Linked DNA regions of Homo sapiens. The protein of the gene in region 1 interacts with the protein of each later gene in a pairwise test. Each region holds a gene or a part of one and is shown on either strand. Other genes may lie near its edges. The genes, in order: UBE2U, TRIM74, VPS41, TRIM24, RNF166, TRIM3 and TRIM37.

Region 1 (3,500 bases):
TCGGTGCACTCTATGAATCAATTTACTTAAAAATAAAACTGTGGAAAGACTAAACCATAGGGAGAAACTCCAGTGTTAATCAGGTTACAGTTAATCAATAAACATGACACTTTAGTAAAAATGTTTATTTCTATATTATAGGTTTAGTCTTCCAACTGACAATACATTTTACATCGGAGTACAACTATGCTCCTCCAGTTGTGAAATTTATAACAATTCCGTTTCATCCAAATGGTAAGAACTAAATGACATTTTTATCATTAGAGGCTTTGTCCCTATTATCCTTGTTTCTTATAATAATCATGTTTCTTTTTAAGAACTTTATTATGATTCTAAAAGTAAGAACTCTCATTGGGGAAAATATGAAAAGGCTGGAAAAAATTAGCAATCACCTTAAATCCTAATGCAAAGAGAAAATACTGTCAACATTTTGCCAAATTTATTTTCCTTTTTTCTAAGTATGAATTTTTTCTATACAGTTGAGGTATTATGCATGAAGTTTTGCCTCTAGGTTTTTGATTTTATTTATTTTATGGTGTTTTTTTTGAGACAGAGTCTCTCTCTGTCGCCCAGGCTGGAATGCAGTGGTGTGATCTCGGCTCACTGCAACCTTCACCTCCCAGGTTCAATCGATTCTCCTGCCTCAGCCTCCCCAGTAGCTGGGACTACAGGCATGCGCCACCACACCTGGCTAGTTTTTGTATTTTTAGCAGAGATGGGGTTTCACCATGTTGGCCAAGCTGGTCTTGAACTCCTGACCATCCGCCCACTTTGGCCTCCCAAAATGCTGGGATTACAGCTGTGAACCACTGCGCCTGGCCTAGGTTTTTAATTTTAAAACTATATGTCTTTTTTCTGCATTATTAAACAGTCTTCAAAAGATCATCTTAAATGGTTCAACAATACACTTAACCATTTCTGTATTGTTCAATATTTTAGTTGGATCTAATTTTTCATTATTATAAAAAAACGATGCACTGGACAGATTAACTTTTTTTAAATAAAAGGTAAGTTAGATTGCTACTTAAAGTTATACACAAAACCAATTCCTGAAGGATCAAAAATCTAAAAATTTTAAATGCTGGAAAAGAAGGAAATCTAATAGAATTTTTATGGGCTTGGTGAGGAAGACGTTTCTCAGCATGATAAAACCCAGTAACTGTATGGAAAATATGACACATTAAACTGCAAAACCTGTTAAAACTTCTCTACGGCCCAGGACATTATACTCAGAGGTCAAAGACACTGACTTTTGCAAACTGAGGGAAAATATTTGCAATGCATGTAACAGAATATGTATACCATATGAAGAACACTTGTCAATCAATATAAAAAGAACATAAAGCAATTAAAAAATGGAGAAAGGCTATAAACAAACACTGGACAGAATAAACAACAAAAATAAACATAAAAAGATTATCAATCTCACTACTAAGAAAATAAAAGCAAATTAAAACAAAAAGTATTGTTATTTATCACATATTCATAAAATGTCAAAATATAACATACATATTTAGTAGGCATGGGCAGACATTGTTCCTCTGATATAATCATGACCTTTTGAGGAAGTAGTGTGACAGTTTCTAATCAGGTATAAAATGCATATATCCCTAAATTCCCGTAATACCATGTTTATAAACTATTCTGTAGAAATATTAGCACAAGTGTGCAAGAGTGTGTTATATTTAAAGACGTTTATTCCCACCAGGCTCAGTGGCTTATGCCTGTTATCCCAGTACTTTGGGTGGTCAGTGGGGAGTATTGCTTGGGTCCAGGAGTTTGACACCAGCCTGGGCAACATAGTGAGACCTGTCTCTACAGAAAATAAAAAAATTAGCTTGGCATGGTAGCATGTGCCTGTAGTCCCAGCTACTTCAGGTCTGAGGTAGGAGGATTGCTTGAGCCCAGGAGGTCGAGGCTGCAGTGAGCCATGATTGTGCCATTGCACTCCAGCCTGGGCAACAGAACAAGACGCTGTCTCAAAAAAAAAAAAAAAAAAAAAAAAAAAAAAAAAAAAAAAAAAAGATGTTTATTCCCAACAGCAATGTTAGAAATAGGAAAAATGGAAATAACTTCAATCTCCATTAACACAGGAATTTTAAGTGAAATATCCTACAGTTACGTGTATTGCTTCTAAACAGAACGAGGAAGGTCTACGAACCTTTTAGGTCTAGATCATTGCTATATCCTTAGAATCTTCACTGCGTGGCATATAGTAGGTATTCAGATATTTTTTGAATAAATATTTGTGTCCAGAAATATGTTGAAAATACATTGTTAAGTGAAAAAATACATTGAACAATAAAATGTAAAATATATTCCCATTTAATAAACACACACATATGGGTGTGTATACATATATGTGTTTGTGTGTATATTTGTATAGACCAACTGGTAATATTGGTCTTGAATAGTAGAATTAGTAGGCAGGGGAACATTCATATTTTACATTAGATTTTTTATGTTTTTTTCCCAAGTACATTATTTTATTGTAATTAAAACCTATTTTTGGTATCTATAACACAAAATTAATTACATACGTGTGCCTTTATTTGTTTAAAATAGTTAGAATTATTGGATTAAATTCAATGGGGGGAGGTACTCTTATCCCCTAGTCCTCATCCCTCCCACTTCCATAAAGTAGAGGGAACTTTAGTCTCTAGGAGGGGGAAGGTATAGGAAAACTTGTGACTGCTCTTTTTTTTTCCCCCATCACTCCTCCTAGAAGTCACTTATCTGATTAGGGAGATGAAGGAAAGAATTGAGCATATGTGGCCCAGAACTTGCTCAACACTCTCTCCTTCTGACCATACTGGGTATAGTCTCTTTTGCTCCAGGCAGGAAACTTAGGCAGGCCTTCGGTTTGGGAGTTAAGTTTAAATCAGGGGGACTTTTGTGGAGCCTGATTAAAGCCATTCATCAAGTGCGTTCTCCATTTCAGTCTTATGTGCAATGAAGCTGATGTTTTTACTTCCACCTTTCAATACTTTGATCTATTTTATAATTACATATGAACTTGAGGGGAGAGAAGGGTTATTTACTAGCTTTCAACCCCCGCCCCCGCCCGCCCCGCAAAAGATGGCTATGTACAGTTTTAAGTCTTTATATAAAAAGCCAAATTGCCTTTCGGTGGTATTTGTACTCCTACCAAAAAGTACATATAAAGTTCTTATTTTAGCACCTTCCAATTCTGGCCATTGAAACTTTGAAGAAAATTTTTTTGCCAATTTGGTAAGAGTCTTGCTATTATTTTAATAAGCACTTCTTTGAATACTTGAGAAGTAAACATTTCCCACCTTTGTTGATTCTTATTTTGTGACTCGTATGATACAATTGACAGTGCTATCACATTGTCCTAGATGTTGCAAATATTTCCTCTAATTTGTCATTAATTTTCAACTTTGTTTATGCTGTTTTTTCACATCTGGGATTTAGAGATTTTTATGATTTAAAATAAATTTATATTTAAGATCTATTAATCTTGTCCTTTGAGGCTTTTG
Region 2 (4,142 bases), on another chromosome or scaffold:
AGCCGAGGAGTTTTCCTAAAGTAATTAGAATCGAAGGGTCTGTCCAAGTGTTCCAGGTATCCATACTATTTCACTAGAATAGAGGAAAGAATGTAAGGAAAATGGACCCAAAACACCCACGCCTCCATAATATCGAGTCTCTCATGATCACACAGAAACAATGCGATCAGATGAGCTTAAGCTGCCCGACACCACGAGGTACAGGAATAAATCTCTCTGCATTTTAGGAGCCTGCCCTTCGGCTCAGAGGTTCAAGAGCTTCATGGAAGCATCACGCAAAGGGGACATAGGGGTCCTTAGCTTTCCTCTTAAAAAAACTAATTCATGGCAGAAGCAGCGGCTCACGCTTGTAATCCCAGCTACTGGGGAGGCTGAGGTGGGAGGATCACTTGGGACCAGGAGTCTGAGACCAGCCTGGGCAACATAGAAAGTGCCCCATCTCTACAAAAATATTAAAAATTAGCCGGGCATGGTGGATTGCGCCTGTAAATCTCTTATTTGGGAGGCTGAGGCTGGAGAATCACTTGAGCCCAGGAAGCAGAGGCTGCAGTGAGCTATGTTCGCACCACTGCACTCCAGCCTGGGGAACTGAGCGAGACCCCGTTTCAAAAACAAAAATCCACTTCAAACAAAGCATTTCCAACCCCATTAAATGCTTTTTGAAAATGAGGCCTCTCTCTTCCCAACAGAGTGCGATGACATGGATCCTGCGGACAAACCGCCCCAGGGCGTACCTAGCACCGAAGCATCAGGCGCCACTAGGTCTCCAGCTCCTTCTCGGATGACGTCCTTCAGCACGCCCCGGTCCCCCGAGATGTCCAGCATCCTCTGACTTAACCGCTCGTACAGGGACTGATGGAGAATGAAAGCCAGGCCTCAGAGCCGCAGACCCACCCGGCCACCCCTCAGCGTCTACGCCCCCACGTCTGGGCCCTCACCTGGCCGGGGGCGTCGTCCCCTTCCAGGACTCCCTGGTTTAACGCGCTTCCCCCCATGTCCTAGCTGCCCTCCCTGTGGCGTGAGCCTTCGGCCTGGTGCGCCCCGCTGCCCTTCCTGGCTGTGACTCTGGTGGGGTTCCGAAGGCCCCTTTATGCCCGGCAGACCCCTACCGACGGCGGCATTCCATTCTGGGGCCACGAGGAGGCACTCATCGTTTCGTTCCAACCGCCGCCAACGGCCCTGGCCCTCGCGAGCTCTGGAACTACAGAGGTCGCACGGTGAGTTGCCAGGTGTGGCCCGTAATCGGAGCGCACAAAACATGATGGGACACGTAACGGGACCACACAGGGCACATTGGGCACTTGCAGGGGCGCGAGGTGGCGGCACGTAATGGGAGCGCGCTGAGCATGATGGGGCATGTGCGGGAGCGCCAGGCGGGGCATGTAACCAGAGCGTGCGGGGCATGATGGGGCACGGACATGGGGGGTTAGGTGGGGCACGTAATTGGAGCTCGCGGGGCAGGATGGGGCATCTAACTGGAGCGACAGAGAGCACGATGGGGCACTTACAGGGGCCGGAGGCTGGGTACGTAATGAGAGCGAGCGGGAAATGATGGGGCACCTAACGAGCACGCAGAGCATGATGGGGCACGGGTGCGAGGTGGGGCGCACAGTGGGAGCGCGTGGGGCATGATGGGACACATGGCGAGGCCGTCAGGGCACAGGGGAAGCACTTTTGGAACACGTGAGTGACAGGGCTGCCGCCCTTGAAGGAGCCCTCGGAGTGGCTGCGTGGTGGGGCACGTGGGGCAGGTTCAGGAAAAAGGATGCAGCATGTGATTGCAGGGCAACCTGGTGAGGACACGAGAGCCACCTGCCACCAGCAGGGTTCAGGGCTCCCAGCTGTGGGTTACTTCCACCTTCTTTCACTTTCCCTCTTCCATTGTATTCTAGAGAATTTAGGCCCAGACAAGACACTGATTGATTGATTGATTGATCGATTGACAGAGGCTCGCTCTGAGCCCAGGCTGGAGTTCAGTGATGGATCTCAGCTCACTGCAGCCGCCACCTCCTGGGCTCAAGAGATCCTCCTGCCTCGGCCTCCCAAGTAGCTGGGATTACAGACGTGCACCACCAGGCCCAGCTAATTTATTTTTTAGTTTTTAATTTGCTGGTAAGATGGTTTGTAGCTTTGTTGCCTAGGCTGGTCTTGAACTCCTGGCTTCAAGCGATCCTCCAGTCTTGACCTCCCAAAGTGCTGGGATTATAGGCGTAGGCTACAGCCAACTTTCAATACTGCCCCATTGGGGGTTACGTTTCCAACACATGAAATTAGGAGGATACATTCAAACCACAGCAGTATATTATGACCATAATATTCATTAACTGTGTAACAGGCTGGGCGCGGTGGCTCACACCTGTAATCCCAGCACTTTGGGAGACCAGAGTGGGTAGATCACTCGAGGTCAGGAGTTTGAGACCAGCCTGGCCCACATGATGAAACCGCCTCTCTACTAAAAATACAAAAAATTAGCCGGTGTGGTGGCAGGCGCCTGTAACCTCAGCTACTTGGGAGGCTGAGGCAGGAGAATCACTTGAATCCGGGAGGTGGAGGTGGCAGTGAGCCTGATTGCACCACTGCACTCCAGCCTGGGCAACAAGAGCAAAACTCTGTCTCAATAAACAAACAAACAAACAAAACCTGTATAACAGAGTGTCATTGAATTTCTAAACGTTGAAAGACTTCACATTAAAAAAAAACTCACAATTTAATATTATTGAGTGAAAGAAACCAGACACAAAAGGGTACATTCTATATGATGCTGTTTATGTGACATTCAAAAACAGGCCACATGACAACATGGTAATAAGGACAGTGGCTGTCCTTGTTAGGAGTTATGACTGGAAGGAGGCAGGAGGGAGCTTTCTGGAAACACTGTACATCTTGCTCTTGAGAGTGCACGTATATACATCAAGTGTTTATCAAGCTGTGTGGTTAAGATTTGCACACTTGTATATGTTATACCTCGATTTAAAAAATCTAAATAAGTAAATAAAGATACCTTCAAATCTTTAAAAAAAAAAAAAAAAAGAGGCCAGGTTCGGCGGCTCACACCTGTAATCCCAGCACTTTGGGAGGCTGAGGTAGGAGGATTGCTTGAGGCCAGGAGTTCAAAACCAGCCCAGGCAACAAAGTGAGACCCCTGTCTCTACTAAAGTAAATAAAACAATAAAATAAAAAAAAAAATTCGAGAGATCGAACCATCATCTGCCAGTTTGTATTAGAAAAAAAGAGAGAGAGAAGGAAGACTGCGTGCAATAAGGCTCATGCCTGTAATCCCAGCACTTTGGGAGGCCAAGGTGGGAGGATTGCTTGAGCCCAGAAGTTGAAGACCAGCCTGGGCAACAAAGCAAGACCCGGTATCTACAAAAAAAATTTTAAAAATTAGCTTGGCATGGTGGCACGTGCCTGTAGTCCCAGCTACTCAGGCAGCTAAGGTAGGAGGATGGCTTGAGCCTAGGAGTTGGAGGCTGCAGTGAGCTGTGACCACGCCACTGCACTCCAGCCTGGGCAACAGAGCAAGACACTGTCTTCCCCTGCCCCCCAGCCCCCCACCCCCCCCAAAAAAGGATATAAGAGCAAGAGATTGAGATTCAGAAAGAACTGTTTCCCAGCACCTGTCTGCTCCTGTCGGGGTCGTGAGGTGTGGACAGTGTGCCTAGTCCCTCTGTTTCTGCCCCTCCTCCACAGTGGCCAAGGCCAGCACTTGAATGTTATCAGAGCAGGCCCAACAAAGGCTGCCTCCCCAGTCCTGTGATGTAACCCAGTTTCCACCTGATTCTGGTGACCTTGGGGACACAGGGGTGTTGCTGGGGAAGGGGAGGAGAGAAGGGGCAGAGACCAGGCAGTGGTGCAGGCGTCCAGCTGCACTTCCCACTTCTGACTCTGTGCCTGCTGTTCCCTGCTGGGAAGAAGAAAAGCCAGTGATGCTGGCTTGAGGCCATAGTGGGAGGCCCAGTGGATCCTGAGAAGCTAGGTATTCCAATGTCGGGCTCTCGCTGGGGGCTTCTGGTGCTTCTTCTGTCTCACTGACAAGCTTTCATAGGGGAGCAGGTGGGAGATCAGGGTAGAGGCCTTGTAGGTTCCAGGCTCTCTAGAATTACCTGGGAGTGTCACCTATAAGTGTAGAGTTCTGGGTCTCA
Region 3 (3,500 bases), on another chromosome or scaffold:
AAGACTGCCCCCACTTCAGACATACCAATCACAAGTTATAGGCTGTCACCTGTACTTCCGACTGGTCAACTATAAACTGGAATTCCCACTACCACCTCCTTAGATTTGACTCATTTGCTAGAGCAGCTCATAGAACTCAGGGGAACACTTTACTTACATTTACTGGTTTATTATAAAGAATATTGCAAAGGATACAGATGAACAGCCAAATGGATTAGATGCAGAGGGCAAGGTATGTGGGAAGAGGCATGGAGCTTCCAGGTCCTCTTTGGGTGCACCACCCTCCAGGAACCTCCAGGTGTTCAGCTCTTGGGGAGCCCTCCAAAGCCACTCCTTTTGGGTTTTAATGAAAGCTTCATTACTTAGACATGATTGATTTAAACACTGGGCCATTGGTGATCGGTGTAACCTTCAGCCCCTCTCCCCTCCTTGGAGGTTGTGGGGCAGGGGTGGGGGTAGGGCTGAAAAGTTCCAACCCTTTAATCCTGTCTCAGTCTATCCTGTGCCCAACCCCATCCTTAAGTTACCTAGGGGCTGCTAGCCACCAGTCAGCTCATTAGCATACAAGAAGACACATCATTTTAGAGATTCTAAGGATTTTGAGAGTTATATGCCAGGAAACAGAAGGAGGACCAAATGTATATTTCACAATATCACAACTATTATTCTGTTGAATGAGTGTTCTTTTTCTGTTTTTCACCTTTGGTTAGGGTTTTGCCACATTGATCCGAGAATGGCCTGGAGATCTGTATAATAATTCAGTCATAGTTCAAGCAGTTCGGGATCATTTGAAGAAAGATAGTCAGAACAAGACTTTACTTAAAACCCTGGCAGAATTGTGAGTATACTTAAGTGTTTCTTTTTCCATATCAGTCTGTGTTGAAAAGTTTTTCATACTTTAGATTTGGCAAACTCCAAGTGGAGAAGATGTATTTTATACCATTTTCCTACATTCCTTCTTAGTAAAAACCTCTCATAAACCTCAAATGAGTAGGCGATAAGGACATGTGTGAAACTGTACAATTGCAATGTAATCTGTTTCCCAGAGAAGAGAACCCCTAACGCACAGCGCTTGGGAGAGGCAGTGGTTAGGAAACAAAAGGGTGCCAAGTTTTAGATCACTCAAGCATAACAGTTTCCCAATGAGCAAGGCTCTGGATTCTGCTCTTCTAGGGTCTTCAAGTCAGTTAATTTAATCTCTCAAATGTCAATTCCTTATGGGAAAATTTTAAACTTTAAAAGAGATGTCATAATAGAGGACTCCCTGACCCTGAGTCAGGGCTCAGAAAATGGCAGCTTGGTTAATATTTTTCATATTTCTTGGGCACATTCAGTGATGCAGGCTTTGTGCGAGACGCTTATGATACAGAGATAGATAAGATATGCTCTCAAGTACTTCGATCTAGGGAAACAAGAAGTATACTGCAGGTCTAGCCAAGACGACCATCCCTGCATCCACCTCTCCTCAGTGCCCCCATCACCTCAGGCCACTCCTCTCCCTTGTTTTTTCTTCTTTTGCCCAAAACCAAAAAAGGTATACCAAAATGACCTAGAACTCTGGACGTGTTGGATTTTCCACAAGAGGAGGTTGTGTTTATGGCATTCTAAGTTGAAATGCTAATCATTTTCTCTTGGAAACGTTGTCCTGTTAGATACCCCTTAGAGTCTGCAGCACGTTCGTAATGGACCAACAGTACAGCTTCAGTTCAGTGAGCTCTCAAGAGCTGACTTAGGGACTTAATGTGAAAAACATTGTTTCAATGGAAAAACACATTTCAGTTAGACACAGCCCCCTTAAAATCAGCTTTTGGAATATTAGCCATTTGTCAGCTGAATACTGCTTGTAAGAATTGGAACGGATGTTTCTGTTACTAAAATGAGAACTTCATCCTGGATCCTAGTTTCTTTGCTGTATGGATGTTTGTAAAACTTTTGAGACTGAGACCCCCAATAAAGACCATTTTTATTACTTGAATATTGTGAATTTTCTTAAATTTTGGCAACATGAGAGGCAAAGTTCTGAGAAAGAAATACTTATTGGTCGTGTATAGTTAAATCCTATTCAAAAATAGGAATATTTTTTGAAATAAAGTTAACTTTTCTCTCTAAAGGAGTGTTTCCATTTTTAATATTGTGAACCATGATCTCTCTGTGTGTGTTTTAATTAGAACTGTTGATGAATATTAATGTAAAAAATTTGTATTACCAGGTACACCTATGACAAGAACTATGGCAATGCTCTGGAAATATACTTAACATTAAGACATAAAGACGTTTTTCAGTTGATCCACAAGCATAATCTTTTCAGTTCTATCAAGGATAAAATTGTTTTATTAATGGATTTTGATTCAGAGGTAATGTGCTTTTTATTTTAGTACTGTCAATTATTTTTACTATTCCAAATATTTAATACTTAGATATCTATCCAAATGCTGGATTGGTGAATGAATCACATAACTTGGCTTTATGCCGACAATCTTTAGAACACTCTGACCCTCGCTAGATGTTGTTATTCTAGTTGTTTGGCATTCAGGAATCCTTTTCATAATGTAGTTATTCTGTGAAAGCAATTCAAAGTTGATAGAGAACTTTTAAAGTTGTGTGTGTGCGCATATAAAGTAATTTCTTGCTAAAACAATTCATATAATTTATAGAAACAAACCACGTATATACTTTGACTCATTTATCCCTCCTAACCTGTTTTCCAGAATTTTAAAATTAAGTGAACTTCCATCTTGACCGACTTATTACTATTTTATTTCTTGGTGTTCACGTATCCAGCATGTGGGGTTTCCCCTGGTTTGAGGTGATGCTCATGTCCAGGACATGTGGAATGTTATTTTATTGTGTGACAAATTTGAATAACCTAATAATAAATTTACGCCCCCTAATGAGTGGACCCAGCCACAGCTCACATTGGTGCTTGCAAAGTGATGCAAGCTGTGTGTGTGTGTGTGTGTGTGTGTGTGTGTGTGTGTAAAAGAAATCTAATTACAAGTGCTCATGACAGAAATAATGAGGTTTATAAAACAGTGTTCTTATTCAAAAAATTGAAATTTTAGATAAACCTAAAAGTAGAACCCTAAAGGCTCCAAAAGGATTAATGCATTTTTCAATTATATTGTACTGTATTTAGAGATATTGTGTGCTATATTAATCTCCACCAACTTAAACTTAATTTAGATAGGAGCTAGAGCTACGTCTTTTTCTCAAAGATGCTTTAGCCCTTTTTAAAATACTGAGTCAAGTCTTTAGGGACTACAGATTTACGAAGAATTACGTAGCTCCAAGGAAGTTCAGGTAGAGAGGCTCTGCTTGTCTGGCAGAGGATGAGATGCTTATGTAAAAATTAATTACATTTTCCTCATATCTAGTCTCCCCTCATGCACCCCCTTCCATTGTTCTCCAGAGCTCGTTTTGCATATGTTCCTGTGGAAAAAAGATGAATGAGCTGAAACTAATTGCTATTCTAGAATGTGATCCAGATGTAAGGAATCAGA
Region 4 (3,500 bases), on another chromosome or scaffold:
AATGAAGCATGTATTCTTATATTATCAGGAGATTATAAATAGCCATTGTTTTGATTGATTTTGAGGCAGGGTCTCACTCTGTTGCCCAGGGTGTAGCAATCATGGTTCACTGCAGCCTCATACGCTTGGGCTCTAGTGATCCTCCTGCTTTAGCCTTCCCAGTAGTGGGGACTACAGGTAGGTGCCACCAGGCCTGGCTAATTTTTTTTTTTTTTTTTTTGGTTAGAGACGGGTCTTTGTTGTCCAGGCCTTTTATTTTTAAATTAAATTCTCCAGAGTTTACAAACCAATGAAATGATAATCTTCATTTTATCAGCCACATCCTGTTGTTCATCAAACCTTTTAGAACTTCTGTCAATTCGGAATTTTTTTTCTACTTCCCACTTTCATTGTATTCCTACTTGTTACTGTTTAGTTTGGGCCTTCATCAGTTCAAATCAATTATTTGCAACAGTTTTCCTTCTTTCTTGGCTGCTTTTAATTAGATCTTCCTTGTTCCAGTCTACACTACCACCAGAGCATAGCTTCTTAATCTTTTTAGGGCAGTAGTCCAGAATCCCTCTTTTGTTTATTGCCTTAAGTCTGAACCCATTGATCTTTCTGTGTCTTCCATTAGTTGGTTTAATTTTGTTTACTTGGTTTTCTTTTTTGAACTCCTTTTCTATCAGCCCGTACCACCTTTCGTTGTCTTCTGTAGCTTCCACTGGCACTAGGGTCTCACTGAGATCTTACCCCTGTTACTCTAACACAGAAAGACTTGGCAATGTTTGGAGATGTTTTTGATTGTCACACCCCAAGCTGGGAAGTATAGAGAGATGCCACTGGTATCTAATAATTGGTGGAGGCCAGGGATGTTGCTAAACATCCTGAAATGCAGAGACATTCCTCCACAACAAGGAATTATCTGGCCCAAAAGTCAATAGTGCAGAGGCTGAAAAACCCTGCCGGTGTAACAGGCTGTAACAGACTGCTGAAAATTCAGCAACTACTTACTGTTTCATAGAATTTCATCATGGTTCCCAGTTTCAATGTAGTGCTAAGTGAACACATTCAACAGGACTTCAATGCATAATTATTCATTCGTTTTATGAATGTATGGTTTCCCCCTCCTCAGGACCTGTTACTATGACTAGTGTACACCCCCCAATACGTTCACCTAGTGCCTCCAGCGTTGGAAGCCGAGGAAGGTAAACTGACTAAACCATATTTTCTAGTATATAAAAATCTCTAATTAGATTTCTTTTGCCAGTGTTCAACATGTTTTGATACTCAATATATTTTGAACAATTTCCTTTATTTTTAATTAAAATTTTAATAACTACTATATATTTTAATGAATTAGTTAAGGGATTAACAAAAGTACAAATTTACCTTTGAAGATAGAAGAATATTTGTCAATATGTTGAAAATAAGAAATGTTGGATATTCATATAATAGCAAAGAAAACATAAAAATGAATAGGCATAACACAGTACACTATATAGAAACACAAATTTAGAGAAAAGATAAAATTTTATGCTAATTTGATCTCTAATGACTAAATGTTGATTCTACTTTAAAATAAATATACAGTTATTGAAATTCTATATTTTAAGCAACTGCTCTCCTCTTCCCTGCATTATGCCTGAAAATTCCTCCTAGCTAGTGAACCCAGTTCTTACTTTATCATATGGAAGAATTGTCTGAGGGAGAAAAGTTTGCCTTTAATCCCATGAGAACATAGTGAATCTCTGTAAAAGCTTTTTGACCCACTACCTTCTTTAAATAGTATTGTGTAAATACATGATTATTTCATTGTCTTCACCAAAGTATTCACTTTGCTACTGACTAGAGAAGGAAATGAGAAAGCCTAAAATCAGATGCCAGTTCTAAGATACTAAATCTGGTTGCCTAATTGTAAAGCCTCAGGTTTTTAAAAGTTTAGGTTTATTGAAACATCTTTCTAGATATATAACTATTTAGATAGGTTAATATGTAAAACATTTTTATCATAAATGAAACTTGCATACACCAGTTTCATTTGTTATGCATCATTAATTGCTGATGTTAACATACTTATTGTTGTGAAGATACAGTATTTTAGAAAGTTGTTGTTATACTTTTTATGAGGTATTTAGCTTAACATTCTTAGATTGCTTTTTCTTCTCTCTCATACTTACAGCTCTGGCTCTTCCAGCAAACCAGCAGGAGCTGACTCTACACACAAAGTCCCAGTGGTCATGCTGGAGCCAATTCGAATAAAACAAGAAAACAGTGGACCACCGGAAAATTATGATTTCCCTGTTGTTATAGTGAAGCAAGAATCAGATGAAGAATCTAGGCCTCAAAATGTAATTATGAATGCTTGCAATGCTATTCCTATGCATGGTGGGTAGGGTGAGAGAATCTTTTAAATAGCTCTTAGGAGTTTTTTTTTAATGTTATATTTAAAAGGATTTAAAGACAATTTGAGGGAATCTCTCAGTAAATTAAACAAAAAGACAAAGATGGAAAAACAGGAAAGTTTTTAAAAATCAGAGGCTCAGATATGGAGGCTGGGCAGTTAAAAGGAGATATTCTTTCTTTAATCAGAGTTTTATACCCAGGCAAATTATCAATCAGATTGACTTGAAGATTAACTAAACATTTTCGTGCAAGTTCTCAAAATAATTCTTATGTACTCATTCTCAGGAAGATACTTGATAATATGAATCATCAAAAATATAGTAAAACAAGAAAGAAGACATAAGATTCCAAAAATGGAATCTGACACAGAAGAAAAAGGCAACCCCCAGTACAGCAGCAGCAGCAGCTTGTGCAGTAGTCTGTAGCAGGAAGACATAGGACTCCCAAGGGAGAAAAATGCTTCAACAGTATTGAGAATCTCCTGTTGGAGATTGTGAGAATAACATAGAAATAGGTACCTAGAAAGATAAGCAACTGAAAATATAAGGTAATTACAGAGTCTTAGTAAAAACAAAAAGTTGTACAAAAAATGTCTTAGTACATTTTGTGGGTCTGCAGTGAACAATATTTAAATAATAATAATAATGATGTAAACAAACACCTGAGTACGAATGTAACTAAAAACTGTGATGCAATCAGGATATAACCTGAATATGCACTTAACCAAAAATTGTGATTTTCAGAATACTTAACCAGTACAAGACAAATACTGATCAGTTAGAATAGATACTGGCAATAAACAGTTATACCAGTACCTACCAACTAAAACAATCAATGCTTAATCAAAACTAAGTTAAAGGGATGGGGTGAATGGTGGTGGTGGTGGTTTTGTGTGTGTGTGTGTGTGTGTGTGTGTGTGTGCGCGCACGCACGAATGGAAGCAGGACGGGGTTGGAGAATCAGAATGTAAAAACCTAATCTCCTGATCTTCACTAGTAAGGATTATAGATGTATTGCAATTTTTAACAATCATTTTATTTAGAAATATGGAGGTAAACAGCAGAAGAAAAAGCTAGGTTTGAAAATAGTTCTTCCAAGGAATAAGTGCTTTTAAC
Region 5 (3,500 bases), on another chromosome or scaffold:
TCCTCTCTTCCCAAGCTCTGCCTGGGACCCTTTTCCTTCCCCTCAGCCCGTGGCCGTGCTGTGCAGCCGAGCCCCGGCCTGGTCTCTGGCAGCTCAGGGTTCACTCAGGAGGTGCACCATCCAGTCGTTTCCAGTGTGTTTGCAATTATGCAACAATCGATGCAATTCTAGAAGATTCTTCCCACTCCAGAAAGAAACCCAGGACTCTCCCCCTCGCCTGGCACCCACCCGTCTGCTTTCTGGTCACTGGGTTTCTCTCTGCTGGACGTTGAGCGTGAGTGGACCCCCACGACACGGGTGGGACGTGCTTGCTGTCTGCCCTGCACTGTTTTCCAGGCCTTCCGGTGCGTGGTGGGGCTGCACGCCTCTTCCCGGCCGAACGCCCTTTCCATGGGTGTGCACGCCACGCCGTCTCTTCATCCGTTTACCGACGGGCACCTGAGCTGCTTCCGCTTCTCCTGCCATGAGTGCCTGAGTATGGGGGTCCCCTGAGGCCTCCCCAGGTGGACCATCTTGCCAGCACCTTCCTCCCGTGAACGGGTGAAGTAGGCGGCCCCCCCGGCTCAAATCCAGGGGTCAGTGCCAGGGATGACCCTGGAAATATCTGCTGGGGCGCCTGGTGAGAACTCGGGTGAGGTGGGTAAAGTGAGCGACCTCTTTACTCTGCAGAAAAAGGCTTGTTCACTTTCTGACGGGTCTCAAGCTGAGTCCCGCTTTCTCTCACACGAAGTTTCATGTGGGAGCCACCAGCCAGGTGGTGGCTCTGTGGGAATCCAGTGGTGGCAAAGAGGGCCTGGGGGACAGCAGGAGGGACTTAAGATGCCTGCTTGGCCACCTTTGCCTGAGGCCCTCAGACTTCCTCCTTGCAGAAAGGGCCTTTTCTTGAGGGATGTGGAAATCTCTTGACAGCAAAGAGGACTCTGGCCCTGAATTCAGCTGAGTCGTTTGTGAACCCAGGGCCTGCCCACAGCCCCTCTGTCCAGTGGGGCTCCTGTACCAGCCCTGTGGCCTTGCCAGGGAGAAGGGAAGCTACACCCCCGGGTGCTGTAGCCTTCCTGGGACTGGGGGGCTCTGCCTCAGTTCCAGCTCCTCGCCGCAGCTCAGCTGTCCCCACAGTGCTCCTCACAAGGCCAGATGTGGCTGCCCCAGTATTAAGCTCCTTCTCTGTGTTTGCACTGGGGGCTCTCGCGCCTGGTGCTCCCACTGGCTGGTGGTGCACCCCTCCAAGGGCTGTGTGCGTCTGCAGAGCGGGAGGGTGTGCGAGCCCAAGGAAGCCCCTGCTGCTGGAGCCCGGAGTGCGCACGGGGCTGTGGGACGCTCAGTCTGTCCTCACGATGTGGTGTCCCCAGGGGCAGTGCCAAGAGCCAGGGCCCATGGGTGCCCAGGACCCGAGCCTCCGCCCAGATGGAGCAGGACCCCCTCCTGCCTGCGAAGCTGTCCCAAGCCTGGTGACTGCCACCCAGCCTCAGGATGTGCTGCCACTTGGCTAGCTTTGGCCCTTCCCTGTCCAGTGCATCTGGAGCCCCTGGGGCCTGGCCGTTTCCTTTCCCACGATTGTTTGAGGTTTTATCCCCCAGAGTGTGGAGCCGGGAGAGTTTCCAGAGTCCCCGGGCTGTCCCTGCGCCCCACAGCCCACCCAGGTGTTGTCGCCACGTGAACGTGAACCTGGTAGCCCGAGCTGGGGCCTCCTGCCTATGGGAGCTCCTCTGGCCCACTCGCGGGGACAGCCATAGTGACGGCTCTGCCGCTAGCCAGAAACCACAGGGGCCTACTGTCAGGAGGGACCGGGGCCACCCTTTAGCCAGATGGGGCCCATCCAGCTGGTGGGCCCCGGACATAGGAGTGACCATCTCCAGAGACGGCGACAGCGGTAGGGGGAGCTGCCCCTGTGGACCCCACAAATGCTGGGTCCTAAGAAGGGCCCCGAGCAAGGCCTGCGGTTCGGGAGACCCGAGGGGCGGGCTGGCACTCAGGCCCCTGTGCCCTGCAGGTTCTGCGGGGAGTGTCTCCAGCCCTGCCTGCAGGTGCCATCCCCGCTGTGCCCACTCTGCCGCCTGCCCTTCGACCCCAAGAAGGTGGACAAGGCCACCCACGTGGAGAAGCAGCTCTCATCCTACAAAGCGCCCTGTCGAGGCTGCAACAAAAAGGTACCCGCCTGCTTGGGCCGCCCTGGAGCCGGGGTCACTTGATGGGCAGCCTCAGCCCACGGGTTCTGCAGAGGGTGGGGGCCGGGGCCCTCTCTCTTTCCTGTTGAGTAATCGCGGTCTCTGCTCCTGCACCAGGAAGCCAGCCCCGGCGCCTCCCTCCCCTCCCGTCTTCATCTCTCACTTCCTGTGGTGACGGCTGACGGGGGGGCCAGCCCGGTGGGGGTAGCACTGTCAGAGCCGCCTAGCCCGGGCCAGGGGAACCCACGTGGGTTGTGGCCAGGGTAAGGACCAGGGGGCTGAGCTGAAACCTTCCCAATGCAGCCTTCCCCTGCCAGCCGATACCGGGGACGGCGCTGGGGGCTCCAAGGTCACAAGGGCCGCGGGCACAGTCAAGGACATCTAAGGGCCGAGCACCCTCCAGCTGCCAGGAGGGCCAGAGCCGGGCTGATGGGCACTGCCACACCCACATCAGAGCAGCGTAAGGGCCTGCAGCTTGTCATGGGCCTCATTGGCCCCCATGTCCATCCTGTCCTGGTGCCTGGCCCGTGCCCCGTGGCCCTCCCTGGCACATCCGCTTCAGGGTGGAGAGGCCCCAGCCAGCGCCCCGTTCTTTCAGTGGCTTCCGGAGGACTGAGCAGCTAGAGGTGATTTTGCATTTGCGTTTCCCGACGTTGCCACATCTCAGGTGAATAAGTTCTATGAAGCGCTCACACTAGTACGTGGCCCCTCGGTGGTTTGTCCTCGAGGTCGAAGGTCCAGATGTCCAGGGGCTGCCCTGGACTCCAGAGTGGTGCGGCTGAGCAGGCTGTGGTCTTGGGTGCTTGGGCACCTCCCGTCTCTCCCTGCTCAGAGTTCTTCTCTCCTGGGCAGCCAGAAAGGATCAGAACCGGTCACATGCAGAGCGGCCTCCCGTATCCCACAGCAGCTCCGTTCTCTAATCTGGGTCTTCAGATGCGGCTGTGTCTCCCGGCACCTTGCTGGAATGTGGTGCATCCCTCGGAGTCCAGCAGCCCTTAGGCAGAGCTGGGTGCCGAGCTTGAGTCCAGGAGGGCCTCAGACACCTGCGATCTTGCAGCCTGTTGCCCTGGACAGTGGGTGTGCTGTGGGTGGAGGATGGCGCCCTGCCTCCACGGAAGCATCCCCAGCTTGCCCCTCAGTCACACGAAGCGTCTGTCCCCAGCCTGGGGCATTTCTGAGTGGCCTCCACTTGGCCTCTTCCTTTTTCTGGAGCAAGTATTTGAACTCCTGCAGGCGCCAGAGATCTCCTTACCTGTTTCCCGCTACCCTTCTCCAGCCAGGTTTCTGCCCTCGGCCAGATTGTCCTGCAGTGACTTGCTTTTGGCCATGGAGTAG
Region 6 (3,500 bases), on another chromosome or scaffold:
TCATCTCTACCTATCTTCCCAAACTCACCTCTTCCTTTTATTGACTTGGCTCCAACCACACAGTCCTTTCAGGTTCTCCATGAGCCTTCTGCCTAAGAACCTTTATCATGCTGTTTCTTCAGCCTAGAATGATTTCCCTTCCTGACTCCCTGTTGTTTCTCACCCTCACCCATACCATTTTTCTCCCATCCACCCAGAATTCTGCTTAAAAGTTACCTCCTTGGAGAGCCTTCCCTGATGACTCAATCAAAAGTGTTCTTTCTCACAGCATCCCTTTTTTCTTTATATCACTTCCCTGCCACTATTATTTACTTTTAAAATATCTGCCACCACCTCCCCACCACAGGGACAGTGACCCTGTCTGTTTTATCATTCCATTCCTAACACCTGTACAAAGTAGGCAGTAAATATTTATTGAATTCCTGAAATCAATTCAGTAAATATAGATCAATCTTTATGTCAGGCTCTGTGCTAAGTGCTAAGAATGAAAACATAAAATAAAATATAAATAAATAAATAAAATGCCTATCCTCAATAACACTGCATGGAGTGGAGAAAGCAGAGAAGTAACAAGAACATTACAGCATAGCTTATAAGAGTTAGGATGGAGTAAATACAGGGTGCTGAGGGACACAGAGGTAGAGCACCCAAGCCAGACTCTGGGTAGTCATGGAAGGTCTTCTAAAGGAGGTGACATTTATATGGGGACCTGAAAGATGAGTAGGTGTCACATCAGCCAGGAAAAGGGGCCAGGAAAAGGATCCCAGGACAGAGAGAACGAATGCCTGATCTCCCAGAAGCAAAAGAGAACAAGGAATTTTCCAGGAACTGGAAAAAAAAAAAAAAAACCCAGCAGGAATGATTGATCATAGACTTATGAGACATGAGGTTGTAGAAAAGGTATGGGGCAAAGTTAAGCCTCACTGGTCAATATAAGGACTTTGGACAATGGATAACATTTGAAGGAATTTAAACAGAGTACTGACAAGATCAAATCTGTGTTTTAGAAAATTCATTCTGGCTTCAAGGAAGATAAATGAAAAGGTGTCAGTGAGGAGACAAGAACACCAGTTAAGAGGCTATTGCTGTATTCCAGGAGAGAACAGATGGTTGCCTGAATTAGGGGTAGTAACTGTGGGATTGGAGAGAAGGGTTTAAGATATTCAGGAAGCAATCCCGACCTTGATACTAACTGGGTGTGAAAAAGAGTGCAGTTTCAGGCAGTTGTGCTAAGAGGTGGGTCAGGGTATAAATGGAAGAGCTGCAGGTAGTTAGAGGAGAGACACTCCATTCAGGTCTCTTGGAGGAGGATTTGGGGGAGGTAGAGGAGATGAAGGGTAGGTATGTCAGTGAAAATGGACATCTCTGTACCATGCACTCAACAGGCACTATGTCACACTCTCAAATTATTATTCCTGTAATTACAAATTAAGAGACTGAGGCTCAGAGAAGTTACATGGATTGTCCAAGCTCACATAGCTGGTGAGAGACTGAGCCAGGTTTGAAACCCAATCTAATCCTACGTCTGTGCTCTTAAACAGAACACCAGGCTCAGAGGTCACATCACCCTGATCCTTCCAGTCACTGCCCTGTCTTGCCCCTAGCAGGGAAGAGGTGGGGGCAAGTTCTCTGCAGGGGATTTGAGTGGCGGGGATTGGGTGGGGAGAAGAAGTTCTGGACTCCCTGGTGCTGACCATCTCTCCATACAGAGGCTGGTGTGAGTGGCGGGAGCCATCTGTGGGCGCCATGGCAAAGAGGGAGGACAGCCCTGGCCCAGAGGTCCAGCCAATGGACAAGCAGTTCCTGGTATGCAGCATCTGCCTGGATCGGTACCAGTGCCCCAAGGTTCTTCCTTGCCTGCACACCTTCTGTGAGAGGTGAGGGGATGTGTGTACTGGGGAGGGATGAGGACCCTGTGGGGAGGATGAGGATCCTCCTCCCCTGTGGGGAGGGTGAGGGAGCATGTGTAAACCTGTAGTAGGTGAGGCAACATGCTTACCTGGGAGGAGAGCAGGTGAACCCCAACCTGCAGGAAATGAGGTTTTGAGGGCAAGAACCTGTGAGAGAACCATAAGAACCATAACACTGGGCCATGGTTCCTGTCAAGAATAGGGCCTTCTCTGTCCTTTCCCAAACCTCAAGGCAGCTTTTGACACCACCTAAGAAATCAAACAGTGCTCAGACTCAACCAGCTTTGGCATCAGCAATTTATGACTAGTTGGAGGATATTTGAAGTTAGGTCTGTCCTTCCCTGCTTGTCCTTGTTGTCCTCAGGTACTGAGTGAAAGGCAACCTGTCCCAGCCTCTAGGCTTCTATGGATCACTTATTCATTTAACAAATATTCATTTATTGAGCAACTACTATGTGCCAGACCCTGTTCTAGGCATTGGGTATGCAGTGATGAGCAAAAACAGATAAGATCCTTACTCTTTTTTTTTTTTTTTTTTTTTTTTTGAGATGGAGTCTCGCTCTGTTGCCCAAGGTGGAGTGTAGTGGCACGATCTCGGCTCACTGCAACCTCTGCCTCCCAGGTTCAACCAATTCTCCTGCCTCAGCCTCCGGAGTAGCTGGGACTACAGGCGCACGCCGCCACGCCCAGCTAACTTTTTGTATTTTATTACAGATGGGGTTTCACCGTGTTGCTCAGGCTGTTCTTGAACTCCTGAACTCAGGCAATCCGCCTACCTCGGCCTCCCAAAGTGCTGGGATTACAGGCGTGAGCTACCGTGCTTACTCTTTTTAAAAACTGATACACAATAGTTTACATATTTATGGGGAACATGTGATACATTGTTACACAAGCATAGAATGGGTAACAATCAAGTAGGGTATTTAAGGTATCCATCACTTACAATGCTTACTCTTAAAGAGCTAACAGTATAGTGAAAGAGAAAGATAGTCATCAAATAATCATATAGCCAGATTATAGATAAATATAACTTTTAGTAAGTGCTGCAAATAAAGTGCTGAGCTATGAGAGATTGGCATATGGAATCTGTTATAGTTTGGAGAATCAGGGAAGGTTTCCCTGAGGAGCAATTCAGAGGATGAATAGGAGTTAACTAGGTAAAGGGGGTTGGAAGAGCATTCTGCACAGAAGAAAGACCATTGGAAAAGCTCATGTGACATGAGAAAATATGTCAGGTAAGAGGCCTGGAGGAAGCCTGGTAGGGCTAGAGCAGAGTGAGTGTGACTGAGAGTATTATGGGATGAAGCTGGAGAGGTAGGTGGAGGCCAGACCACCTAGGGCTTTGTAGACCTGTTAGGGAATTTCACCTTTACCCTGAGAGCCACATGAAGCCTTTGCAGGGTTTTATATGTGATCACATCTGTATTTTGACAATATTCTCTTGGGCCCTTATCTCTCATTGTTCTGTCTTGGGTGGCCTGGTCCCTAGGTCTTCTCACCACCACTGCCTCTATCCGCACTTTTCCTCTGCCTTCTGCCCCAACGGAAACCTGGCTCTGCACCAGAGATACTGCTTCCCTGCCAGCCCTG
Region 7 (3,500 bases), on another chromosome or scaffold:
ATAATGTTTTACTATTTGAATTTTTTTTTTAATGTGGCACAATTCTTTTAAGGTTTCAGGTACGTTCACCAACTTTCTTTCAAAAATCCCGGGACCAGCATTGGTACATTACTCAGTTGGAAGCTGCACAGACTAGTTATATCCAACAAATAAACAACCTTAAAGAGGTAAGAAAATATCTATTTCTGTTTTGGTGTTTCCTATTGTCCTTTTGGCTTGTTATATTTGTAATTAGATTTTATATATTTTATTGCTATTTGTAATTTTGTAATTTGTAATTAGAAAAAAAATCTAGTTATCTTGTTCCCCATCCTTACCAGTTCTGCAGTGTCCAGTTTAGTAGACACTAGCCACATACGGCCATGTAAATTTTTATTTTACTTTATTTATTTATTTTTTTTGAGAAGGAGTCTCGCTCTGTTGCCCAGGCTGGAGTGCAGTGGTGCAATCTCGGCTCACTGCAAGCTCCGCCTCCTGGGTTCACGCCATTCTCCTGCCTCAGCCTCCTGAGTAGCTGGGACTACAGGCGCCTGCCACCACACCGGGCTAATTTTTTTGTATTTTTAGTAGAGACAGGGTTTCACAGTGTTAGCCAGGATGGTCTCGATGTCCTGACCTCGTGATCTGCCCACCTCGGCCTCCCAAAGTGCTGGGATTACAGGCATGAGCCACCACGCCCTGCCACTTTATTTTTATTTTTTTTTATTTTGGAGACAGGTCGGACTCACTCTTGTTGCCAGGCACAATTTCCACTAACTGCAGCTTCAACTTCCCAAGCTCGGGTGATCTTCCCACCTTAGCCTCCCAGGTAGCTGGGACTACGAGCATGTGTCATGGCTAGTTTTTGTTTTTGTGGAGATGGGTTTCTCCATGTTGCCCAAGCTGGTCTTGAACTCCTGGGCTCAAGCAGTCTGCCTGCCTTGGCCTCCCAAAGTGCTGGGATTACAGGTGTGAGCCACTGTGCCTGGTCTGTAAATTTAGCTTAATTAAAATTAAAAATTTAGTTCCTTAGTTGCAGTAGCCACATTTCAAGTGCTTGCATTGGTTACTGCAAATCTAGAGCATTTCCATCATTGCATAAAGTTGTTTTGAACAGTGTGGCTGTAGTTTGAGGTAAGCTGTTTGTGTTTCTGTCAGTGACTTAGTTTCTCTTCCACAAGTTATCTTGGATTTAGAGGATTCTAGGCTATAGCACAATTAAAAGTTGTCCCATCTTGAACTCTTACTATTGTTGAATGAGCACTGGGGAAGATTAATTGATGAATTTTTATTTTACAGTGGTAAACTAAGGAATGTTTCATTTCCCTTAGGAAGTTAGGGTGTGGCAGGAGGTTTGGAGTGCTGAGAGTCGTTAATAGGTCAGGGAGGAAAATGTGAATAAATACATGCTTTCAGAGATTTTCATGTTAAATGTGCTATTTAAAACTGCCTGTATTCACTATACTGTTTGCTAATTGTATGTTTAGCTTAGGCTGGATATGAAAGAAGGAGGATGAGCATAAATGGGGCAGTTTATCTTTGTCATCAATTTTTTTTTATAAATAAAAGGCAGTAGGGATTCAGAGAAATGGTTTAAGAAATGGTGCCAAGTGAGGTGGCTCATTCCTGTAATCCCAGCATGTTGGGAGGCCGAGGCCAGAGGAACATTTGAGCCCAGGGGTTCAAAACCAGCTTGAGCAACATAGCAAGATACCGTCTCTAAAAATAAATAAAAATGAAATTAGCCAAGCATGGTGGCACACACCTCCAGTCCCAGCCACTTGAGAGGCTGAGGCAGTAGGATCGTTTGAGCCCAGTAGTTCAAGGCTTGCAGTGAGCTATGATGGCACCACTGCACTTCAGCCTGGGCAACAGAGTGAGACCATTCTCAAAAAATAAATAAAGCAATGGTTTTAGAAACATCTGGATGCATTTTTTTTTCACTTGAGACATCTTTTACTGTGCCAGTGAGCTGTGGCTAATATTTGTGCTTTTCTTGTTTTAAAAGAGACTTACTATTGAGCTGTCTCGAACTCAGAAGTCAAGAGATTTGTCACCACCAGATAACCATCTTAGCCCCCAAAATGATGATGCTCTGGAGACACGAGCTAAGAAGTCTGCATGCTCTGACATGCTTCTCGAAGGTGGTCCTACTACAGCTTCTGTAAGAGAGGCCAAAGAGGATGAAGAAGATGAGGAGAAGATTCAGAATGAAGATTATCATGTAATAATGAGGCCAGTTTTAGATTTTTGTGTTTGATTAAAAAAAAACAGTAGCATCATGGCTTTTAACATATTATGTGCTAAAACAGTAGGCTAAAAATATTGTCCATTGATTTCCATTAGTAATGTATGTATGCCCTTATGTAAATGTTAATAAGTCAGAAGTTGTTGAATCAAAGCATTTCAAGGTTGTGAAAAAAACAATACATTGTATAAAACAAACCGTGATACACATTTTAAAACCTAAACTACCATACATTGTGGATTTTAAAAATGTGTTCTGGCCGGGTGCGGTGGCTCACACCTGTAATCCCAGCACTTTGGGAGGCCAAGGTGGGTGGATCACATGAGGTCAGGAGTTCGAGACTATCCTGGCCAACATGGCCAAACCCTGTCTCTACGAAAAATACAAAAATTAGCTGGGTGTGGTGGTGCTTGCCTGTAATCCCAGCTACTTGGGAGGCTGAGGTAGGAGAATCACTTGAACCTAGGAGGCGGAGGTTGCAGTGAGCCAAGATTGTGCCACTGCACTCCAGCCTGGGAGACAGAGCAAGACTCTGTCTCAAAGAAAAAGAAAAAAAAAAGGTGTTCTATTTTCATTCACTGAAACTAGTACATGCCTTATCATTACTTACGTAGGTAGACTGATTTAGGATTCGGTAGCTAGCCAGGTTCTATCCCAGCTAAACAACAGTCAGAATCCAGAATAAGAGTTCAAGAAGTAGTTGATATTTTTACATAAGAAGGGATGCATAGACAGTTGGTTTTTTTGTAGTAATTTTTAAGATGAGAGACTTCAGTTTTAAGTTAAAATGAAGGACCCAGTGGGTCGAGAGAATGCACAGATTAAGTGCTTTGATAAACTAGAGATAATAGGGTTTGGAATGGAGCAGTCAGGTGAAGCAGTTAACCTTTGATAAACTGAGTTAAAGGAAGGGTGGAGTTTGCAGGTAAGGCAGCTGAAAAGTTGGGGAAGTTTTTGCTTAATAGTGGGTATTTTTTTTCTGTGCAGATAGGTGACAGTGTTAATTAATGACCTTGATAATGGTAAAATTAGGTAGAATTGAGGAGTGATGGTTTGAAACGTTACTCTGTGAGGAAGCTGATGTGGAATATGTGAAGGATTCCAGTCACACTGAGGGCCCAGCTGAAGGCGGCACGCATAAGTTAGTAAAATGATATCAGTCAGTGTGGTTGTGTGATTTTTCTCTACAGGGCTCAGCAGCTGAGGCACAGGAGCAGAAAATAGATTTTTGAAAACTGTATTATTCTTTGGTGCTTGGTTTATGGGCTGGATG

What was found.
Region 2: the proteins of UBE2U (region 1) and TRIM74 interact in a two-hybrid assay, tested with the Homo sapiens proteins (one large-scale study listed by BioGRID and IntAct).
Region 3: the proteins of UBE2U (region 1) and VPS41 interact in a two-hybrid assay, tested with the Homo sapiens proteins (one large-scale study listed by BioGRID and IntAct).
Region 4: the proteins of UBE2U (region 1) and TRIM24 interact in a two-hybrid assay, tested with the Homo sapiens proteins (one large-scale study listed by BioGRID and IntAct).
Region 5: the proteins of UBE2U (region 1) and RNF166 interact in a two-hybrid assay, tested with the Homo sapiens proteins (one large-scale study listed by BioGRID and IntAct).
Region 6: the proteins of UBE2U (region 1) and TRIM3 interact in a two-hybrid assay, tested with the Homo sapiens proteins (one large-scale study listed by BioGRID and IntAct).
Region 7: the proteins of UBE2U (region 1) and TRIM37 interact in a two-hybrid assay, tested with the Homo sapiens proteins (one large-scale study listed by BioGRID and IntAct).

Annotation. Positions count from the first base shown.
Region 1 is NC_000001.11:64,206,623-64,210,122, forward strand, and holds part of UBE2U (ubiquitin-conjugating enzyme E2 U), read left to right. Parts: intron 1-141; coding exon 142-234; intron 235-3,500. UniProt on the Homo sapiens protein: Catalyzes the covalent attachment of ubiquitin to other proteins.
Region 2 is NC_000007.14:72,966,667-72,970,808, reverse strand, and holds the start of TRIM74 (tripartite motif-containing protein 74), read left to right. Parts: upstream 1-1,342; 5' UTR 1,343-1,524; intron 1,525-3,855; exon of another isoform or gene 3,856-3,976; intron 3,977-4,142.
Region 3 is NC_000007.14:38,755,692-38,759,191, reverse strand, and holds part of VPS41 (vacuolar protein sorting-associated protein 41 homolog), read left to right. Parts: intron 1-710; coding exon 711-838; intron 839-2,209; coding exon 2,210-2,354; intron 2,355-3,500. UniProt on the Homo sapiens protein: Plays a role in vesicle-mediated protein trafficking to lysosomal compartments including the endocytic membrane transport and autophagic pathways. Acts as a component of the HOPS endosomal tethering complex.
Region 4 is NC_000007.14:138,575,259-138,578,758, forward strand, and holds part of TRIM24 (transcription intermediary factor 1-alpha), read left to right. Parts: intron 1-1,114; coding exon 1,115-1,187; intron 1,188-2,161; coding exon 2,162-2,330; intron 2,331-3,500. UniProt on the Homo sapiens protein: Transcriptional coactivator that interacts with numerous nuclear receptors and coactivators and modulates the transcription of target genes.
Region 5 is NC_000016.10:88,699,909-88,703,408, reverse strand, and holds part of RNF166 (E3 ubiquitin-protein ligase RNF166), read left to right. Parts: exon of another isoform or gene 1-619; intron 620-1,990; coding exon 1,991-2,147; intron 2,148-2,458; exon of another isoform or gene 2,459-2,468; coding exon of another isoform or gene 2,469-2,789; exon of another isoform or gene 2,790-3,500. UniProt on the Homo sapiens protein: E3 ubiquitin-protein ligase that promotes the ubiquitination of different substrates. In turn, participates in different biological processes including interferon production or autophagy.
Region 6 is NC_000011.10:6,463,942-6,467,441, reverse strand, and holds part of TRIM3 (tripartite motif-containing protein 3), read left to right. Parts: intron 1-1,709; coding exon of another isoform or gene 1,710-1,746; coding exon 1,747-1,877; intron 1,878-3,500.
Region 7 is NC_000017.11:59,047,881-59,051,380, reverse strand, and holds part of TRIM37 (E3 ubiquitin-protein ligase TRIM37), read left to right. Parts: intron 1-52; coding exon 53-167; intron 168-1,987; coding exon 1,988-2,203; intron 2,204-3,500. UniProt on the Homo sapiens protein: E3 ubiquitin-protein ligase required to prevent centriole reduplication. Probably acts by ubiquitinating positive regulators of centriole reduplication.